Linked DNA regions of Homo sapiens: region 1 is linked to region 2. The links come from fine-mapping of genetic effects on gene expression. Tissue or cell type: skeletal muscle. Region 2 holds a variant in brackets; the other region holds the start of a gene. All regions are shown on one strand. Distances are from middle to middle. Region 1 holds the start of TFG (trafficking from ER to golgi regulator). Region 2 overlaps TFG (trafficking from ER to golgi regulator).

Region 1 (2,917 bases), 29 kb after region 2:
CTATCTGCCGTGTTTACCTGCAAATTCACTTTTTGTGTTTCCTATTGACTGTAAACATCTTGTGGCCAGGAACCAGTGCTTCTTTCCTAAAGCTGTCGTTTGCTCTTGCAGTCATCTCCCCAGAGTAAACACAAAAGTATCTCAAAAGTAAGTGTGCAACAAAACTTTCCCTTCAAGGGGAAATCCCAACCCAACATTACTTCACATACAGAATTCTGGTACTCATTTTCTCTTCCAAAGTAGAGACTGGTATTAACTAGTTCCTAGAACTGCCAGTAGGAGCCCTACGACAAGCTCTTCTCCCATCTTGTCCTTGCCCCGCCCCCTCTGAAGTCCAGAAATGACTCGGCTTCTAACTTGTATAATATAACCCTCTACCAGGTACACTTTTCTCAGCACTGGGAATAATCTGACACGCCCAAGGTCATATAAAAAGCCTGCCTCCTGAACCAGGTTCTAGGTTCGGCGGACAAACTTCTGGTTCTACTACCTCTAAGGGTAAGACCCTGCTCAATTTCAGAGGCTGTGGCTTAAGCACCTCCTGAGGGGAGCAGTTTCCTTCAAGAAATACTAAGCCAAGTCAACCTGTAATTATTCTAAAGAATGCCAAGAGGCCTCAAACCCTGCCTCAAAGGCAGTGCAGCAAGACGGTAAAGATTCTCACTACTAGCTATGTGATCTTAAGTCCTCCAAGGCTCACTTTCATCACATTCGAAATGAAAACAACCATATCTGAATTTGGAGGAATCCTTGTGATGATTAAATGAGACAGTGCATCCAAAATACTTACTGTAGTGTCCAGCAAAGCAAACTCTTAAAGTTAGCTAGAATCATCACTATAAACCAGGCTGGGCCTCCAGCCGGCGCTTGATTAAGCGCTGACTTAGCCAAGGAACTAGGCTCCGATTCTATGACCCCAATCAACTTATTCCCGTAGGCGCCACTCCACACCCTTCCGAGCTCCTTCGGGTATTGGGCGCCGGCCGCCCCAAACCTCCCAAAGCCCCTCTCCTCTCAATCCAAACGCTTGGAGGCAGGCTGCACCAAGGCATTAGCTGGCGCACTCCCCTCCCGGAGCCCCCCAGGCGCGCCTCCTGGCCACCGCAGCCAGGGGTTGCCTCTCTCCCCTCCCCCTCCGCGACCTCCCTTCCCCTCCCCCCATGCAAGGCCCCGCCCGCCCTCCCCCCCGGCCTCGTCCTCCCTCCCACCCCCTCCTCCCTCCCACCCCCTCCTCCCTCCAGCCCCTTCCCACAGTGCCTCCGACCCCAGCTGCCGCGCGGTTCGAACGAGGCCCTCCCAGCGCCTCCTAGTCTCCCGGCCTCCTCGGACAGAGCGCCCGCAACCCCCGTCTCCAGTGGCCATACCGGCTTGCGGAGGCCGCGGCCGCCGCCTCTCCGCAGGTCTCCGCTGAATGGGCGGACGCGAGGCCACTGGACTGGGGCGTCGCGGGGAGGCGGTGGTCACGGCCCCCTCGGTTGCCCTTCGCGACCGCCGCACCTCGCTCGCAGGCTCGCGCGGGCCCCGGCCAATCGCGCTGACCCAACAAGCCTAGCGAGAACTTGGGCTCTGTACGTGGCAGGTGGGGGAAGAACAGAGGCGGGAGCAAGAAAAAAAAAAATGTCCTTTCGCCCCTCCTTATTGCGCGTGGACATACCCAGGACGCATGCGCGACGGCGCGAGGCGCAGGGCTGGCTGGGTCCCGGCTGCCTAGGCCGAAGAGTCCCTGCTTTCTCACTGGATGACGGGATTTAGGAAGCGTGAGCTGCCCCGATGCACGCATGCGCGGGGCGTGACCACGCACTTCCGGTTTTCTCGAAAGCGGGTATTTCCGTTTCTCGCCAATGGGCGGGGCGTAGTGCGCTGTTCTAAACTTTTTGAGAGTTGGTTGCAGTAGACGTCTGTCCAACTTTAAGTGGTTTTTGTCGTTATTGTTGACCATTGTAGTAACAGCTGAAAAAGAAAAAACCTTTTCTTCTATAAATCCATTCATTCATTATTGGGAGCCTATGCTTTGCCAAGCCCGGTTCTAGGAATGGGGGTGAATCATTTTGTGAGCAAGGAGTTTCCAATTAAGCAGGGAAGACCTACAGCGTTTATGAGCAAGGAAAATCTGTAACTGTGTAAAGGACAAAAGCTGGGAAATTAAGGCTAAAGATTCCTGAGTGATTTTTAGAGGATAAGGCATTTGAGTGTGTCCTACGTACTCTTCCCTTCTCCCTTACCTGTTCAAATAGAAATACAGTATGAGTAAGTAGGAATTTATAGCCAAGGGGTGGAAGTCGGTCAGTGGATGGAAAATTACTAAGAGGAAATATCAGGGGCAAGGGAGATTCTGGCTAAACCAACACAACAGGATTCTAGACGAAGATAGGCCAGGATAGCAGACATCACCTGGGGGTGGTGGAGGATGAGGAACCCCATCAAGGGTGAGGGATTCTCACTACACTGCCTTAACAAGGTTCTTTGCTGAAACTGAGTTTTACAAGAAGATGCACAGATGGTCCTAGGAGAAGGCCCAGGAGCCCGAAGTTTGGCCAAACGGAGAATGTTTGTCACTTCTAAGGTGGAGACTAAGCTGATAAATAAAGCATTTAGACCCTACCTGGTCTCCAGTTGTTTACCAGTTATAAAAGAAAAACTTAAGCTGAATTAAATTTAAAGGAGTTTAATTGAGCAGTGAACGATTTCACGAATTGGGCAGCCCCCAGAATCACAGCAGATTAAGAGACTCCAGCAGAGCCACGTGGTGGAAGATTTATAGACAAAAAAAGGGAAATGAGGTACAGAAATTGGCAGTGAAGTACAGAAACAGCTGGATTGGTTACAGGTTGGCGTTGGCCTTATTTGAACACTTAGCAGTCTATGAGTGATTGAAGTGTGGCGGCTGGAATTGGCCAAGACTCGCTTATTGTAAGAG
Region 2 (2,917 bases):
GCACATGAGTATCTGCTCCCTGTTAGTCCCTCACATACTGAATAGGGCTGACCTGTATACCAAGAAAATATTGCAGAAATGACAGTGACATTTCTGAGGACAGGCTATAAAAGGTTATCTTCTACCTCACTCTCTTCTGATTACTCATTCTGGTGAAGCTGTCATGTCATGAGGTCACCCAAGCAGCCCCATGGAGAAGTCCAAATGGTAAAGAACTGAATCCTCCAGCTCTGGTTAAGCTTCAGATGACTATAACCCCAGCAGCCATTTTTAACTGCAACCTCATGAGAGATGCTGAGCCAAAATCACCCAGCTAAACCATTCCGGGATATCTGTCTAAAACTGTATGAGATAATTAACTTTTGTTGTCTAAGTATCTATGTTTTGGGATAATAGTTACACAGTAATAAATAATACACATAGTTTTGATTTTAGAAACATGTAAGGGATTTTAGAAACATGTAAGTTTTTTCTAATGGCTATTAGAAAAAACGACTCAAGACACATTAACAATGCAAAGTGTGAACCTTGTTAGGCCCCTCATTTGAACAAGTCAATTTAACAAACGAATCTTGAAACAATTAGGGAAATTCAAACACAGACTAGCACACGTTGACATTAAGAATCACTGTTGAGGTTGCAGGTGAGCTGTAATCAAGCCAGTACACTCCAACCTGGGCAACAGAGTGACACCCTGTCACAATTAAAAATAAAAAGAATCACTGTTAAGTAACAGCATGGTGGTTATATTAAAAAGAAGATTATCAGTTGGACATATATACTGAAATACCTGAGTATAATAAGCTGTTCATAATTTGATTTAAACTACTCCAGCAAATTAAAAGGGGTGCAGTGGGGAAAAAATGATGAAAAAAGAATGCCAAAATATTGGTAAGTGTTGAAGCCACATGACTACATGAAGAGTTGATTATTCTATGTATGTTTCAATATTTACATAATAAAGGCTACTCAGCTTTTCATTATATTGGCATATGATTTTAAAGATTTTAATTATATGCTTTTTCATTTTTTTAGGCTGTCAAACAGCAATATCTCCCGATCTCTGATGATTTTTAGCGTTCTTCTCCTTACCAGTTACATTTCTGGCAACATCACATAGTCTTCCTGTAACAGGCACTGGCTTTATATGAAAAAGAGTAA[C/T]ATTATCCCTTTTGGTTTTTTTTTAATGATGCTCAATATCTTGTTGATCCTTTTAACTGAAAAACATATTAAGACTACATTTATTTGGAATAAAATTCACAGTTCCAAAGTCCCTTTTATGGGAGTTAAGTAACAACTCAGAATTCTTAATTTTAGTATGGACTATTAACACATTGTAAGAGATTGCTATGTTAACAAATTATAAGTAATACATTTTATGTTGGTAATTCTGCTCAAATTATAACCAGTAGTTGATCTAAATAACTGACAATGTCAAAGACTCATTATACAACAAAAAGTAAAAGTAGCCTATAATTCATGCTGGGAATCTATAAATAACGACTATATTTATCTAAAGCTGTGCTCTTAAAATAATCACTAGCTACATGTGGCTATTGAGCACCTGAAATGTGGCTTGTTTGAAATGTGATATGTTGTTTGTTGTTTGAAGTGTTCCAAATCAGTGTCAAATCCCAGACTTCCAATACACAGTACCAAAAAAATTAACTTTTTAATAGTGAGTACACGTTGGATACATTAGGCTAAATAAAATTAATTTTACCTTTTCTTAAACATTTTTCTAATGCTGCTAAATAGAAAAACTACATGTGGCTTCTATCGTAATTCTTTTGGACAGCACTGATCTAGAATTAGATCAGTTATTAATAGTTTAAATGATGTCACATATTAATTGTACAATTTTCATACTGTATGTTTTAATGTAAGCTAACAGTTAATTGCAGCAAGGCATACAATACTACTCTAAAAATTAAATGCATATAAACAGTGTTAATCTGCTACCTCTGAAAAAAGGAATTTGGTTGCTGTGGACAGAGGTGGGAGAGAGAATTTTCACTGTATGTCCTTTCGCATTTTTAAAATTTTACTTATTTGAAAATGCTCAATTAAACACTTCATAGAATGTTTAGATATTGCTAGTAGCGCCTTAATTCCCATTTATTTATACATAAACAGCAAACATTATTTGGTACAATGATCCTTCCAACTGTCATTGTATCACAGTATACACTGCTTAAAATGGGATTTATTTAAAAACAAATCTTTAGTTCGCTTGATGTAGGCATTAAACTCTCATCATACCTATACTCTGCTTTTGTCCATTTCAGCTGACATCTGCTTTAGTTCTAGTTTGTTCTAGTTTTGGCAGTAGCATTTTGGTGCAGAGGAGGAGTTAATTAAAGTTGGTTGAGAAAAGGCTTAAGCAATAAGAAATTCTTCGCAAACCACTGATTCATCAGCAAAATGTCACCTGCTAGTCCATAATGACTGGTGTTCATCCAACAGACAACTCTGTGGATTTTTTTTTTTTTGGCTTTGTTTGTTTTTGAGACAGGGTCTCGTTCTGTTGCCCAGGCTGGAGTGCAGTGGAGTGATACAGCTCACTGCAGCCTAGACCACCCACTTCAATTCAACAATGCAAACAATCCTCCCACTTCAGCTTCCCAAGTAGCTGGAACTATAGGCACATGCCATAGCACCTGGCTAATTTTTTTAAATCTTTTTTTATTTTGTAGGGACAGGGTCTCACTATGTCACCCAGCCTAGTCTCAAACTCCTGGGCTCAAGTGATCCTCCTGGCTCGGCCTCCCAAAGTGCTGGGATTATAGGCGTGAGGCACCACACCTAGCCAGGTAACTCTGAAAGTATCACCACAGGATGATAGGATTCTATTCCAAAAGTGGTCAGTTCATTTTAGCCTATGTTTTGTTTTTGTTTTAATGTAATTGATAACCTT

The links. PIP is the estimated chance that this variant, and not a neighbour inherited with it, causes the effect.
Region 1: it holds the start of TFG, and the variant in region 2 is the best candidate, but not a certain one, in a credible set for the expression of TFG in skeletal muscle (GTEx, PIP 0.54).

What each region holds. Positions count from the first base shown.
Region 1 is chr3:100,708,169-100,711,085 of GRCh38, reverse strand. It overlaps TFG (trafficking from ER to golgi regulator), which reads right to left and starts at 1,592. Exons shown (of 8, transcript NM_006070.6): 1 at 1,365-1,592. RefSeq lists enhancers at 242-1,132, 1,133-2,024 and a silencer at 1,266-1,495.
Region 2 is chr3:100,737,661-100,740,577 of GRCh38, reverse strand. All of the region lies in intron 6 of TFG (trafficking from ER to golgi regulator), which reads right to left. Among named protein-coding and RNA genes, the nearest start is that of TFG, 30 kb to the right of the region's middle. RefSeq lists an enhancer at 2,494-2,917. The variant C/T (reference allele first, on the strand shown) is at 1,162.